Regions from separate parts of the Homo sapiens genome. Here region 1 is linked to region 2. A link means that fine-mapping ties the variant in region 2 to the expression of a gene that starts in the linked region. Tissue or cell type: whole blood. Region 2 holds a variant in brackets; the other region holds the start of a gene. All regions are shown on one strand. Distances are from middle to middle.

The links. PIP is the estimated chance that this variant, and not a neighbour inherited with it, causes the effect.
Region 1: SCML1 starts here. The variant in region 2 is fine-mapped to the expression of SCML1 in whole blood (TOPMed, PIP 0.91).

Annotation. Positions count from the first base shown.
Region 1 is chrX:17,732,778-17,740,963 of GRCh38, reverse strand. It overlaps SCML1 (Scm polycomb group protein like 1), which reads right to left and starts at 3,471. Exons shown (of 8, transcript NM_001037540.3): 1 at 3,284-3,471. It overlaps NHS (NHS actin remodeling regulator), which reads right to left. Exons shown (of 9, transcript NM_001291867.2): 9 at 4,970-8,186.
Region 2 is chrX:17,764,895-17,773,080 of GRCh38, reverse strand. It overlaps the pseudogene FAM136GP. Among named protein-coding and RNA genes, the nearest start is that of SCML1, 31 kb to the right of the region's middle. The variant C/A (reference allele first, on the strand shown) is at 4,273.

The sequences.
Region 1 (8,186 bases), 32 kb after region 2:
TTGGCTGTAGTTAGACACAGGAGCACTGTGCAGTGAGTCCACCACTGGACTCCCAACATGTTTACATCTCTGGTACATATACAAATCAACACCAATCTTTCACTCTTTGAGCTTCTCGCTCCTGTTATGCCCTCCGTCCATAATACCCTGTTGTGTCTCCGCCTAGGAGAATCTATTCAACTTCAAGGCTTACTTCAAGTTTCACCTCCAAAAAGCAAGGGCACCATGCCAATGATCATCCCATGTGGATGTGACACGGCTTTCCCTGAACTACAATAACACTCACACTTTAATACTTCTACGGCAACTGTCACACATATCTGGTTACATGAGAGGCAGCATCAAACAGCATTAAGACCTTAGGCTTGTGGTCAGAATACCTGGGTTTGGGTCCCACCTCCCCCACATACTAGCTGTGTAAGTAAGTTGAACAACTTACTTAAATCCTTTTTTTTTTTTGTCTGTAAAATGGGAATGATAATAGCACATACCTCACGGAATCGTGAGGATTAAATTAATACATGTCAAGTGCTTAGAGTAATGCATGGCAAAGATAGCAAGGGCTTTTGAGTATTGACCGCATCTATCCAACAGAACTATTTCTCAAGGAGCACATAGACAACAAGCCTGGGTCATAACGTCATTTTCATTCACATTGCACCTGAAGTGAGTTTTTATGTCTTTTAGGTACCAGGGTATGATGCAAGGAGCTGGGCTTTAGTTATAAACACTTGAATCCAAGTCCAAATTGCCAAATTTGCCGTTTCACTTTAGGCAAATATTTCACCTCTCTGTGCCTCAAATTTTCTAACCTGTAAAGTTGGAATAATATCTACTTCACAGGGCTATTTAGGCCAAAAATTACACAGTTAAACTCTCAGCATCATGCCTGGTTCATAGTAGACACACCATAAATTTTAATTCCTTTTCACTTCTTCCCATAAGGCAAACAATTACAGCTTTACAACATTGCCTTAGAGCCCAACCATGACTAGAATGTGCAAAATTAATTTCATTTTTAAATCTCAAATCCCACAAAATGAGTTTACTTAAAATGAAACTCATTTATATTTACCACAGAAATCTAAATTTCTTTTTTTTTTTTTTTTTTTTTTGAGACAGAGTCTTACTCTGTCACCCAGGCTGGAGTGCAGTGGCATGATCTCGGCTTACTGCAACCTCTGCCTCCCGGGTTAAAGCAATTCTCCTCCCTCAGCCTCCCGAGTAGTTAGCGTAACAGGCTTGCACCACCATGCCCAGTTAATTTTTGTACTTTTAGTAAAGACTGGGTTTCACCATGTTGGCCAGGCTGGTCCCGAACTTCTGACCTCAAGTGATCTGCCCACCTCGGCCTCCCAAAGTGCTGGGATTACAGGTGTGAGCCACCGCGCCTGGCCAATTCTTGATAACACCATAAATTTAAGTTCCTTTTCACTTTTTCCCACAAGATAAATTACAGCTTTACAACATTTTCTCAGAGCCCAACCATGACTAGATTCTACAAAATTAATTTCACTTTTAAACCTCAAATTCCACAAAAATGAGTTTAAAGGAAACTCATTTATATTTACCCCGGAAATCTAAACTCTTGATAATACCACACATTTTAGTTTCTTCTCACTTCTTCCCACAAGATAAATAATTTCAGCTTTACAACATTTTCTCAGAGCCCAACCATGACTACACTGTGCAAAATGAATTAATTTCACTTTTAAATCTCAAATCCCGTAAAAATGAGTTTACTTAAAATGAAACTCACTTGCATTTACCACAGAAATTTAAACTCTTAATTACACCATATACCTTAATTCCTTTTCACTTCTTTCCATAAGATAAATCACAACTTTACAACATTTTCTGAGCCCAACCATGACTAGATTGTGCGAAATTAATTAATTTCACTTTTAAATCTCAAATCCCATAAAAATGAGTTTACTTAAAATGAAACTCACTTGTATTTACCACAGAAATTTAAACTATTCATTACACCATACACTTTAGTTCCTTTTCACTTCGTCCCACAAGATTAATTACAGCTTTACAACATTTTCTCAGAGCCCAAGGCTAGATTGTGCAAAATTAATTAATTTCACTTTCAAATCTCAAATCTCGTAAAATGAGTTTACTTAAAATGAAACTCACTTATATTTACCACAGAAATCTAAACTCTTGATAACATAAGAACAAGAGGCCGTCTGATTTTCTAAAAGACTTTTTTTAGACATTAAAGACATTTTCAAAAGTCGTAAATATTCGCTCCGGAGGCGCAAGGCTTTCACCTGCCATTAATTCATCAGATAAGGCACAGCTCACAATGAGGCGCCACTCCCACCGGGACCACTTTGAGGAACACACAGCAAAACGCTCTGTTTGTTTTAAGAACAATCACTTTCTAAACCTTCCTGCGGGACTCTCAAAGGCAGCCCTTCCTTTGCCGCCAGAACCGCATCCCATCGCCCAGCACTTGCCGCAGGCCGGACAAGTGAGGCCCAAAAGGGCACCCAGCCCACGCCCCGCTTTAGAAAACACCGCGCGGCAAAGCTGCTTGGAAAATCGCTATCTTTTAGTCAACCTGAAGCCAGTTTGCCGCACTCGGGGAGAGCCGGGGAGAGGAGGGAGGGACGCGATCCGCCACCAACCAAATCAGGGCCTTTCCTGTTAACGACCACGCGGCAAGGGGGCCGGGCCCTCGCACGCCTCGACGGCCTCCCCCACTCCAAAGGGACTCCGATTTCGCAGGATCTCCCGCCTCCCGCCTCTGCTCCCAACACCCTACGTTTTTCTCTTCCTCCTCATTTACGTATTTACAATAAAACAGCGAAGCTGCACAGTCTGTCTCTAAATCAAACGCGGTTACCATCAAAGCCTCAGACTCTATGTCTCAACCGCAAAAGGTCTGACAGGAAATCAACTCGGGAGTTTGTCAATTCTTTAAACTCAAAGCTCTGTTAACGAAATCTGGATCCTTCCTCGCTCCCCACCTGCCTCCCCTGACAGGAGAATGACTGTAAAAGGATCCTGTCGTCCCCGAAAGTCAGCACCAAGCACTTCACAAATTGTCAAATCTCAAAAGCTTACACGCGCGGGCACTCCGGAAAGGCTGTGGGGACCACCCAAAGCACCCCCCTCCACACCGCGGCTGAAATTGGAGGCTGCGAAGTCAAGACTCGCTCTTCCCCGCAAAGCAAACCCTCTCTCCTCAGGAGAGCCCCGGCCCCTAAGCCAAATCGTGTATTCCCGTGACGGAAAGTTCAAGGTGAGGAAAAAGTACGACTGGACAGACCTATTTTAGTGACAGAGCCTGTCACGCCGGCCTCCGGAGGTCGCGGTAAAACTGCTCGCAGTAGTCCTGCCTCTCCGATGGGCGACAGCTGTGACCGTTAGGCCACTCGACGCTTCGGAAAGGTCCTGGCACCGGAAACCGGGCCTGGTCACGCGCACGCGAGACCAGTGATGCCCTGACCCCTGAGTGGATCAGAGAGCTCCCGCGACGCCGAATTCCCACACTCGCGGTTGGGGGGGGGGGGGGGGGGGGGGGGGGCGGGACTACCCGCTGACCAATCGGAGTCTGGCCACTGACAGGCGTCACCGTTGATCGGCCAATCCGCGGGTGCTCTCCCAGTCCTTGGGTGAGGGCGGGAATTTGCTAAGGAGATGGCTGTGGGGCGGGGCCGAGGGCGGGAATTTGCTGAGGAGATAGCTGTGGGGCGGGGCCGAGGGCGGGAATTTGCTGAGGAGATGGCTGTGGGGCGGGGCCTCTTACCTCAGGTTTTCCTTCGCAAGACCCGCAGGATTGAAAATGGACGTTAGGCCTTTCAGAGACTCGCGCGCTGAGTGGTTTCTGCGGCTGCGCAGGAGGCTGGCGCGCATGCGCAACCCTTCTAGTGGCGTTGTAGTTAGGGACGTGGTGTCCCCCCTTCGTTGTTGGGGTGTCCGAAGCTTTTTTTTTTTTTTAATGTGATCCCGCCCCTCCCCCGCGCTCTGTGACGCACCAGAGACGTCGTCGTAAACTGGGTTTCCTGGACGCACGCCAGTGATTGACTTGGAATGAGGAGAGGGGCGGGGCCTTAGCAGTTGCCCTGAGCCAGGTCTGGTAGGAAGGGCGAGGGGGGCCAGGGTGGGGGGCGGGCAAGATATTTCCAGTCTCCAGCACCCACAAGTTGGACTGGGGAACTAACGCAGACCTTGAAGGCAGATTTACTGGATTGGACCCCCAGCTCCAACACAGTCCTCCTATGGCCTTAGGCAAGCCAAGTAACCGCTTTGTGCTTCGGTTTCCCCATCTGTAAAATGGGTATAATATGGGGACTACATGAGTTAATGTATGCAAAGCACTTAGAACAGTACCTGGCATAGAATTTTGCTATTGTAATAAAGGCTATGTGACATCATCTAGTGGCATATAGTCTTACATACTTATATCGAGGCTGCTCATCTTGGGAAGGAGACACAGTCTGAGTAATTATCAGAAGCAAAGCAGGCAGATATTTCAAAGTAAAGCTATACATCTTTTCTTGGCCCAGAGAGGAGCTACAAAGAAAGTATACTGGACGTTGGAAATGTATCATTTTTCCTCTCAAATACGAAGCTAGATTAAAGCCCATTATAGATATAGTATATGTTTTTTTTTTGTTTTTGTTTTTGTTTGAGACGGAGTTTTGCTCTTGTTGCCCAGGCTGGAGTGTAGCGGTGTGATCTCGGCTCACTGCAACCTCTGCCTCCTGGGTTCAAGCGATTCTCCTGCCTCAGCCTCCAGAGTAGCTGGGATTACAGGCGTCTGCCACCATGCCCAGCTAATTTTTGTATTTTTAGTAGAGACGGGTTTCACCATGTTGGACAGGCTGGTCTATGTTCTTTTTGCTCCTACTTTTGCCATAACAGACCCTGCCCTTATGTCCTGTTGCCTGTAAAACACTGTTGCGAAGCCCCAAGAAATCAATTACGTAACAGTGAAGAGAGAAACCGGTTGTTTAATTGCAGTCACGTTTATTTGCAGTTTCTATACACACTTTCTAGGTAATCAAACTTTTCTGATACATTTTTTTTGAGAGGGGTTCACAATGAAACTGTCACCATTTTTACTAAAAATAAATACAAGACTTAAAGTGTTGCACAGCTCTAAAATATACAAAGGCTTGGATTGAATGTAAACGTTGAAAACATCTTACAAAAGAAACCATCTTTGCAGCAATTTAAAAAGTTCATATTTACAAATATTACAAAAATACAAAATGGATGCAAGTCCATAAACCATTGTCGTTTCGGCCAGCATGAACTGGTTCTAGTACCAAAATAGTTACACTGTAACCTTCTTCATAGTTTTAAATCTTTATTACCATCTAGTTCTCTACGTGCCACCACTGCAGCAAATGCACTCACTCACTGACCTTTGGCAAGAGCAAACAGCATGTTCTGTTTGCTACAACTAGTCCATGTCCTCTACTTAGCCAAAAACAAATCAAAACAACAACAAAACCAAAGTAGAATTTTTAAAAAATGAAAAAATTTCCCCTACACAACATAGATACGTTGTATAAACATAAAAGAACAAAAAATCGCATCAGTGCAAACAACAGAAGAAAAGTTCGGATTGATGTTCTTCACAATACCTAACGTGTGTACCCTGCTTCAAGACGGCAGTGATGTTAAAGACAGCCCTAAATCTTGGTCTTGTTTGCTATGTAATCAAGCCATGTAGAATATTCCAGATTATTAGGGAACTTCCTGCTTTTTCTTCTCAGTTTGTAACTCAATACTCTTTTCCACAGTGAATTTTAAATCCATCTTTATTTGGGTTTTTTAAATCTATGAAATATAAAATAGAGAAACTCTGCTATAGATTTTTAGAGTAAACAAAATAAGTAAAACTATATTATAAGGGTTAGTTCTGTGATCATTACATATAGAAGGTATCTTATTGCCTCACAATTCAAGTCAATATGTATTTTAAAAAATATATGGTACCATTACTTAATGTCAATAATAAAAAGGTGACATTTTTATTAAAGCCAATTCATGTGTTTTCTATTCAAGATTTAGAATCACTTTTAAAGCCCACATACCTTTCTTCACACTTAAAAAACCCCTAACTACACAAAAGCCATACTGCAAACGAACTGCTTTTATGAAATTACGAAAGATCGCCTACTGTGACTGGAAATGACGGTTTCTTATCGCATTTGCCTAAAAACTTTATTTTTAAAACTTTGCAAGGTGTACTTTTCAAATCATGAGACAGATTTATTCATGTTCCCATGTGGTGTCAAACCATGCTGGTTTTCTTAATTAATGGGTTCCAATGAGAAATGGTGGTCCATTTTATTCAAACCCCAAAATATTTTTCTTTTAAGAAAAAGTGTGACATTTTGTAAATGTTCAAACCCTTTACCAGGTAGCTTATCTATCCCCAGTGTGTGTGCGTACACACACACTCACACTCACACACACCCATACACACTCTCTCTGACTCTCCCTCCTCTTATACCCCTCCACCCCCAGCACCCATTTTACATACAAGGATGACAAGAAATTTAGTAACACAGTTTGGTAGTGAAAACAAATAGTAGAAGAAGCCAGACATTTTTTTTCTTTCCAAACAAACAAAACAACAGCAATCAGATTATCTATTCTTAATCTGTAGCAGTTTAGAAATCATTTCTATTGAAAGACAGTATCTTCTTAGACCAGGCTTCCTCCTTCATTTTGCATGAATTAATCCAAAATGCAAACCCTCTTCCACACCTCCTACTTTCCCAACTACCACTTGCATAAGCTTAAAGCCAGCAGCTTGTCAATTTCTTGGTAACATTGGTATGTTCTATCACTCTAATCACATTCTAGTCTTTTATAAGTCAGATCCCTTCTTAATTCTCTCTCTGTTCTACCTCTCCCATTCAAAACCTATTCTAAGTACATAGCTGCTTATATTTCTGACATAAGATTCCAAACATTAGTATAAGTTCATGTTAAAATCAGAGGTGTAAAAACCATTTGCAGATTTTAACGTGTAACTACATTTTTTTTTCAGTTTTAAGACAAGAAAATTCAAGTAATTTCAAGTAATTCAGCTTGTTTCCCTGCCTTTATTTTATCAGAGCACATGCCCTGACATTTCCTCTCCCACCCTCCACCCTCCCCTTTTGCCATCAAGCAGACACTATAGTAAAACCAGACAAAAACTCAGTTGTATGTAGTATTGTGAACCAGAGCTGTTCCCCATTCCCAGTTTAACAATGAGTATAAATAATGCATATACACATACCTATTTTCCAACTACATTGTTCACAGTGTCATTTCTGTTAATTTTTAGGTAGCATGAATCTCATCAGCACAGAGAGAAAGCTTCACTGAAAACTCATTACAGGTACTTACTGATTAATCAATAGCTCTGTGGCATGCTTAGGTTTTATTTTTGTTAGTTTAAGAACCTGGAGCTAATTTCTAAACTGTTTAAGGAGTTTAATGATTACAGTCATTAGTTATGACCGTTTATGTCCCCAGTAGCCTAATATAAAACATAACCTAAAATTAACTACTATTTTCCCTACTCATTCTCTTTAAAGCAATCCATTGAAAAAATTAAAATCTAAAGGACACTGTCAAATGCTGTTGTTCAGGGCTTTGTGTTGAGAATGATGACTTCTCTCACTGATTAAAAAAAAAATCAAAAGCATGCTTTTCATTCTGTCCAAATTACCACACAACAAATCACAGCCATGGGTTGCTATTAGTTTGTTTGGTGCTGCAATTTGTCATAAAAATGATTAGATCTGAATTCATTATTTTAATTTATTCATATTTCAGTATATGACCTCAAGATTTCCTTTAGTTCACCAGTTTAAAATTCATATTTGAGGTTTACCACTCAGAAATCATATTGGTGGACATTTAAATATGGCATTTGATATGAAAATGGTATTCACAGAATACAGTTATTACATTTTATTTTTGTGTATTCTATAAACAGTTGGTGTGCAGTAGATAATTGACCACATGTCCACTCATCATTGATAAATCTATTTACACATTTTTATCAAAAATATGGTATTTACATATGTGTAGTTCTTTCTTCTAAATTTTGCTTTAGTTTGTTTTAATGTAAAAAAATACCAAACATCCAGAGTAATTTCATCTTCTTAAAGAATAATGACAGTGAGGGCTTTAGTTTCTGAATAGGCAGCTCTGGG
Region 2 (8,186 bases):
ATAAATGGACAGAGACAGATCATGCGTAGTTATGAATGTCAGGAAGACAGTAAAGAATTTGCAAAGGCAGGTCATGTATATTTATGAATGTCAGAAAGACCATAAGAGCTGGGCAGAAGCAGATTATGTGTGTGTATGAGTGTCAGGAGGACAGCAAGGGATGGCAAGATACAGGTCATGTGTGGTATGAATGTCAGAAAACCAGAGAGAGATAGGCAGAGGCAGATCATGTGTGGTATGGATGTCAGGAAGACAGGAAGAGATGGGCAAAACATCATGTGGGCATATGAATGTCAGAAAGAAGGTAAGAGATGGGCAGAGGCACATCCTGTGTGAATATGAATGTCAGGAAGACAATAAGACATGGGCAGAGGCAGATCATGTGTGGTATGAAAGTCAGAAAGAGACTAAGAGATGGGCAGAGCAGATCGTGTGTGTGTATGAATGTAAAAAAAGACAGGAAGAGATGGGCAGGGGCATGTCATGTGTAGCATGAATGTCAGAAAGAAAGTAAGACACCGCCACAGGCAGACCATGTGTGATATGAATTTCAGGAAGACAGTAAGCGATGGGCAGGGGCAGATCTTGTGTGGTTATGAATGTCAGGAAGACAATAAAACATGGGCAGAGGCAGATCGTGTGTGAGTATTAGTGTCAAAAAGACAGTGACAGATGGGTACAGGCAGATCATGTGTGGCATGAGTGTCAGGAAGACAGTAAGAAATGGGCAGAGGCAGATCATGTGTGGGTATGAAAGTCGGGAAGACAATAAGAGGTGGGCACAGGAAGATCATGTGTGGTATGAATGTCAGGAAGACAGGAAGCGATGGGCAGAGCAGATAATGAGTGGGTATGAATCTCAGGAAAACAGTAAGACATGGAGAGTGGCAAATCATCTTTGGATGTGAATGTCAGGAAGACAGTAAGGCATGGACAGAGACAGATCATGTGTGAGTATGAGTCTCACAAAACCGGTTAGAGATGGGCAGAGGCAGGTCATGTGTGGTATGAATGTCAGGATGACAGTAACAGATGGGCAGAGGCAGATCAATGTGGTATCAATGTCAGGGAGCAAGTAAGTGGTGGGTAGAGCAGATCATGTGTGGTTATGAATGTCAATTATGCAGAAAGGCATTGGCAGAGGTAGATCATGTGTTGGTGTGAATGTCAAAAAGACAGTAAGATATGGGCAGAGGCAGATCAGGTGTGGTATGAATGTCAGGACGACAGTAAAAGATAAGCCTAGCACGTCACGTGTGGTGTGAATGTCAGGAAGATAGTAAGAAGTGGAGAGGCAGATCACCTTTGGTATGAAGGTCAGGATGACAGTAAGAGTAGGACAAGACATATCATGTGTGGCTGTGAATGTCAGGAAAACAGAGATGGGCAGAGGCGGGTCACATGTAGGAATGAATATCAGAAGGGCAGTAAGAGATGGGTAGAGGCAGATAATGTGTGGCTATGAACGTCAGGACAGTAAGAGATAAGCAGACGTAGATCAGGTGTAGATGGGCAGAGGCAGATAATGTGTGGCTATGAACATCAGGACAGTAAGAGATAAGCAGAGGTAGATCAGGTGTGGCAAGAGCCTCAGGAAGACAGTAAAAGATATGCCTGGCACATTATGTGTGATATGAATGATAACAGTAAAAGATGAGCAGAGGCAGATAAAGTGTGAGTATGAATGTCAGGAAGACAGAGATGGTCAGAGGCAGATAATGTGTATTATGAATGTCAGGAAGACATAAGAGATGGGCAAAGGCAGATCACGTGTGAGTATGAAAGAAACAAACAAGAATGGAATGGGCATAGCCCCTTCTTGTGTAGGTAGGAATCTTAGGAAGACAGTAGGAAATCAGCAGTGCCAGGCAATAAGTGGGTGTGCGTTTCAGGAAGACAGAATTTGTAGCGAAGAACCAGATCTTTTGTGGGAATGGGTCACAGGAAGACAAAGTGAAGACAAGTGAAAAATCGTATCAGAGAATGGAACAGAGAAAGTATGAAAAAGATGGAGATAGCCAAGTAATAGATGGGTATGGATGACAGGAAAACTGAAAAACATGGGTAGGGAGAGATTATGTGTGCATATGACACAGTATGACTGACACTTATGAACATAGCCAGATCCTGTGTGGAAATGAGTCTCAGGAAGACAAAAAATGCACAGAGTCATATCATGTGTGTGTATAAATGTCAAAAAGACAACAAGATATGGGCAGAGGAAGATCATGTATGGGTATGACTGTCAGGAAGACAGTAAAACATGGGCAGGGGCAGATCATGTGTGGGTATGAATGTTTAGGAATATAGTAAGAGACTGGAAAATGCAGATTATTTGTAAATATGAATGTCAGAAAGACAGTCAGAAATAAACAGAGGCAGAGCATCTGTGGGTATGAATTCCAGGAAGACAGTAAGAGATGAGCAGAGTCAGATCATGTGTGAGTATGAACTTCAGAAAGACAGCAAAGATAGAGGCAAATCATGTGCGGGGAGGAATGTCAAGCAGACAGTAAAAGATGGGGAAAGGCAGATCATATGCGAGGATATATGTCAGGAAGACTGGAAGAGATGGGCAAAATTGATCATGTGCAAGTACGAATGTCATGAACACAGTAAGAGATGGGCAGAGGCAGATCATGTGTGTGTATGAATGTCAGGAAGAAAGAGATGGGCAGAGACAGGTATGTTGGGTATCAATGTCAGGATGCCAGCAAGAGATGGGCAGAGGCAGATCATGTGTGGGTATGAGTGACACGAAGACAGTAAGAGATGGGCAGATGGGCAAAACATCATGTGTGCATATGAATGTCAGAAAGAAGGTAAGAGATGGGCAGAGGCAGATCATGTTTGGGTGTGAATTCCAGGGAGATAGTGGGAGATGGGCAGAATCATATAATGTGTGAGTATGACTATGAGGGAGTCAGTAAGCAATGGAAAGAGGCAGGTCGTGTGTGGGTATGAATGTCAGAAAGACAGTAAAAGTGTCCCTTCATGTATGAGTATGGACCTCAGGAAGAATGAATGTGATGAGCAGAGCCAGATCATGTGTGGGTATGGAACACAGGAAAGTATTAACTGATAGGAAATCACAGATCACGTGTGTGGGGGAGGCATAGAAAACAGACAGAGGTGATCAGAGGCAGATCATGTGTGGGTGTGAGGCTCAGGAAGACAGGAAGAGGTGACAAGATACAGATCATCAGTGGGTGTGAGGCTCAGGAAGGCCCAGGCAAATGGGCAGAACCAGGTCATATGTGGGTATGAGGCTCAGAAAGACAGAAGGAGACGGGCAGAGTCAGATCATGTGTGGGTATGGAGCACAGGAATCCAGTAACTGATGATAGGAAATGGCAGAATATGTGTGGATATGGTACACAGACAGACAGAAAGAGATTAGCAGACCTAGATCATGTGTGCTATGAATGTGAGGAAGGCAGTAAGAGATGGGTAGAGTAGATCATGTGTGGGTATGGATCACTGAAAGTGACTAACTGAAGGACAATTACAGAACATATGGGATTTGGAACACAGAAATAAAGAAAGAGATGAGCATACCCAGGTCATGTGTCAGCAGAGACCTCAGGAAGACAGAAGGAGATGGGCAGAGGCAGATCATGTGTGGGCATGGAACACAGGAAGATAGTAAGAAATAGGGGGGCAGTGCAGACTCGTCGTAGTGGAGGTGCAGCAGCTGCAGGTGCAGGAGGTGGACTCCATGGTGAAGAGTCTGGAGAGATAGACCATCCGGAAGCTGCAGGGCCTCATGTTCTGGTGCAGCACCAGCTGTTGTGCACATGCAGCAGGTGCACCGGTGCATTGAGTGCTGGCATGCGCCTCTGGCTCAAGCCCAAGCCTTGGGGACCAGCTAGCTGGAGAAGTTCCAGGACTGCCTGACCGGGTGTACCATGCATTGCAATGACAAAGCCAAAGATTCAACAGATGCAGGGAGGAAGGAGCTGCAGGTGAAGCAGCCACTGGAAGATTGTGTGACCAAGGGTGTGGATGGCCACACGCACCTCATCCAGACCATGAGCAAGGCAAGGAAGGTGTCTCTCTTATCCACTGGGAAATAAAAGTCTTTGCCAGTGGCCATGGGGGCTGAGTGCAAAAATATATTTTTAAAAGGAATGGGAAGTTTAATCTTTTAAGCCAAGTTCATGAATGAAGAAATTAAGGATGGCACCAAGTGTAAGGCATATGCCACTTGCCTCTGGAAACTGGTTCAATCCTAAAAAGTGAAATGGAAAAAAACGGTGCTAAAATTTGGGT[C/A]AGAGATATTACAGGAAAATATTTTCAAGTCGATATTTTCTGTGGCCAGGGCTCGTCCTGGCAGTAGGGATCTCCCTTGTCACAAGCCAGACCCCTCTGCAGGACCAAATTCTTCTTCCTCCACAGGGCCCACCAGGCTGGTAGGGCAGATTCGGTGGAGTTTGAGGAGAGCTGTTTCTGTTCGTTGCCAACCTCCTGTTTCCCAGAGGCATCACCACACCATTTTCCAGAAGCTGGGCAACAAAATCCATGAGGACACTAACTTGGAAGAGGAAAAGAGTTTTCAGGGTCTTTGTTTCCTTGGTTTTTAAAATTATTTACTCAAGGGCATAAAGTTGATTTTAAGATGTGCAATTGGGAGGGAGAGTAGTTTAGATAAGAAGTTTGAAAGGTTCCTTGTGGATACCCTCTTCTGGCCATCAAGGTGTGGATGTGCACTTCTTAAAATTCTTACACACTGCATCTTTCAGCCTGGGGACCACACAAAAACATGAGCAGTGACATCACACTAATTATGGGAAACAGAGCTTCCCTCTTATTGGCCGATGGGCCCTGAGGCTGTCTGCTGAAGAATGACAGGACGATCTTCCCCTCACATTTTCCCCTGGAAGAAAAGGAGGTTTTGGTTGTGATGTATACCAGTATCCAGGAATGAGCAGGAAAGAAGGAGTTGCTGGCTACTTGGTTGATTATAAGAGAGTTGTGAAGTAGTGGATTTGGAAAAACCTGGTTTTCATAGAACAGAATGCAATGAAAGCCTAAATCCAGCATTGCTTACATAGCCCCTGAATGAACAGAGCCCAATTGAGACAAACCCCTGACCACAGGAAGTTCAAGGAAGAGAAAGTAAGCAACTTGGGCTAAGATAAGCTGTAGCAAAGGAGGGGCAGTCCCCGATTACCAAAGACCATTTTTGCCTGGGGCCTTTGCAACACACAGTGTTCATGCCCTAGCATGGCACCTGATTGTTTTGATAGCAACTTCATTGCAGTTTTACCAGGTTATTTCTTGAAATGATAATATAGCCTGTCTGTTCACTGTTTCCAGGCAGTGATATATTTTCCTAGTTGTTTGGTTTTTAAAATAAATAAGGTTTAATTTCTCCCCTTCCCCACAAAAAAGAAATGGGCAGATAAAACAATGTGTGGGTATGGATCACAGGAAGACAAAAACTGATGAGCACAGGCAGATCATGTGTGGATATGAATATTAGGAAGACAAAGAGATAGGCAGAGATAGATCATATGTGGGTATAGAGGACAGGAAAACAGTAACTGGTAGGAAATGACAGATCATATGTGAGTATCCCACACAGAAAGATAGTAAGAGATGTGCAGAGGCAGATCATGTGTGGGTATAGATCACAGGAAGACAGTAAGAGATGAACAGAGCCAGATCATATGTAGCTATGAATCTCAGGAATACAGTAGGAGATGAGCAGAGTGAGATCATGTGTGGCATGAATCACAGGAAAACAAAAAGGGATGGACAGAGCCATATCATGTGCCGGTATGGATCTAAGGAAGACAGCAATAGTTGGAATGGACAGACCACATGTGGGTATGGATCTCAGCAAAAAAAAAAAAAGAAAGAGATGAACAGAGCCAAATCATGTTTTTGCATGAATATCACAAAGACAGAAAGAGATGGGCAGTGCCAGATCATGTGTGTATGGATCGGGGGACAGTGAGTGAAGGGCAATGACAGATCATGTATCACGGGAAAACAGTACATGACAAGCAATGACAGATCATGCACGTGTATGGAACACAGAAAGAAAGAGTTGGGAAGAACCAGATCATTTCTGGGTATGTATCCAGGAACACAGGAAAAGACGGGCAGAGACACATAGTGGGTTTGTCTGAATCACAGGAAGACAAAAGGGGATGGGCAGAGCCAGATCATGTGTGCATGTGGATCTCAGGGAGACAGCAAGAGATGGCCAGAGCCACATCATTTGTGGGTGTGAATCTTAGAAAGACAAAGAGGTGGCCAGAGCCAGATCCTATGTGGGTGTGATCCTCAGGAATACAGTAAGACATGGGCAGCACAAAACCATGTGTGGGTGTTGGTCTCAGGAAGACAGAAGGGAAGGATGGAGCCAGATTATATGTGGGTATAGTTCTCAGGAGCACAGAAAGAGATGGGCACAGCCAGATCATGTGTGGTTTTGGAGCACAGGATCACAGTAACGGAGAGGAAATGACAGATCTTGTGTAGATATGGAATACAGAAAGACAGAAAGAAAGAGATGGGCAGAGCCAGATCGTGTCTTGCTGTGAATCTCAGGAAGACAGTAGGAGATGGACAGAGCCAGATCCTGTATGGGTACGGGGAACAGGAAGACAGAAAGTGAAGGGCAATGACAGATCCTGTGTGGGTATGCAACACAGGAAGAAAGAAAGATCTGCATGTCCAGATCACGTGCAGGCATGGATCACAGGAAGCCAGAAACAGAGCTGAGCAGGGCTATGTGTTGATGTGGATCACATTTAGAAGGGGAACAGTAGGAACAGACCTTATGTGGGTACAGAAAACAGGAAGCAAGAGAGAAAGTAGCAGAGATCAAATCATGTGTGGGAAAGATGGAAATAGAAGAGCAGAGACACAGTAGTGCCTGGGTATGGATCATATTAAGAAAAAAAGAGATGGGCAAGGATTACACCATGTGTTGGTGTGGACCACAGGAAGACCGAAATGCATGTGTAAGCTGAGACCAAATCATATGCATGGATAGATCACATTTAGACCAAAAGAGATGGGTAGGGATAAATTCACGATTGGGTGTGGATTGCACTAAGACAAAAATCGCGGTCAGAGATAATATATAGATTTGTATCACAGGAAAACAGAAAGAGATGGGCAGAGCCAGATCATATGTGAGTAGGAATCATGGTTAGACAGAAATAGATGGGCAGGGCCAGATTATGTGTGGGTATGGTTCGCTAGAAAAAGAAAGAAATGGGCAGGGATAGACCAGACTGTGTGTGTGGATGGATCGCAGCAGGAAAGAAATGTGTGGGGCAAGGCCCAGGTCACATGTGGGATGATAGATAGAAAAACAGGAAGTGCCAGGCAGGGAGCAGTACATGGGTGGGCATATATTAGTGTAAGACAGTAAGATGGGCTGGGATTATGCCATATGTAGGTGTGGATCACAGAAAGACGGAAAGAGATGAGCAGATCGAGACCATGTGTGGATATGGAACACAGCAAGGCAGAAGGAGGAGTGTAGGCCAGATCATGTGTGGGTGTGGAACACAATAAGAAAGAAAGGAATCGGCAGGGATAGATCAGATCATGGGTGTGTATGGATCACTCTTAGACAGAAAGAGATGGGAAAGTATGATATCGTGTGAGGCATGGGCACAGGAAGGCATAAGGACTGGGCTGGGCATGTGGCCATGTTGGCACAAGACTTTCCAGAGGCCAGGAGTGGCCAAGTGGGGATGTGGATGTGACAGCAGGAGTTATGGCAACCATGTCAGCCCACGAGATGGAAGCCACATGCTGAGGAAAAGAAAACAACAAGATGGTAGGGGCATGGATCCCTGATGTGGGAGCACCTTCAGACCGCCAATGTGAAGAGAAAAGAGAAATCAGTTTCTACCATTGGGAAGCTCTGGGGGCTCAGGCTGTCTCTATTGAAGTACCCAAATGCCATCCTAACTACTGCAATAAGAACTAAAGGACGCAGGAGGTGGCCATTTCACCACTCCTTGCTTTCTATTCCTCCCCACCCCTGCTCCTCCAGGGGAGTTTTAGTGCCCAAGGACATTGAGGAAGTGGGAGGGCAAATACAGATGGCTGGGGCTCAGGCAGGTGTCCCTAGGAATGATTTGGGGGTGCACAGGCAGTAGCAGATGCCAAACCCACACTCATGACTCCTCCCTGAGGGTACTGTTGACACAGGC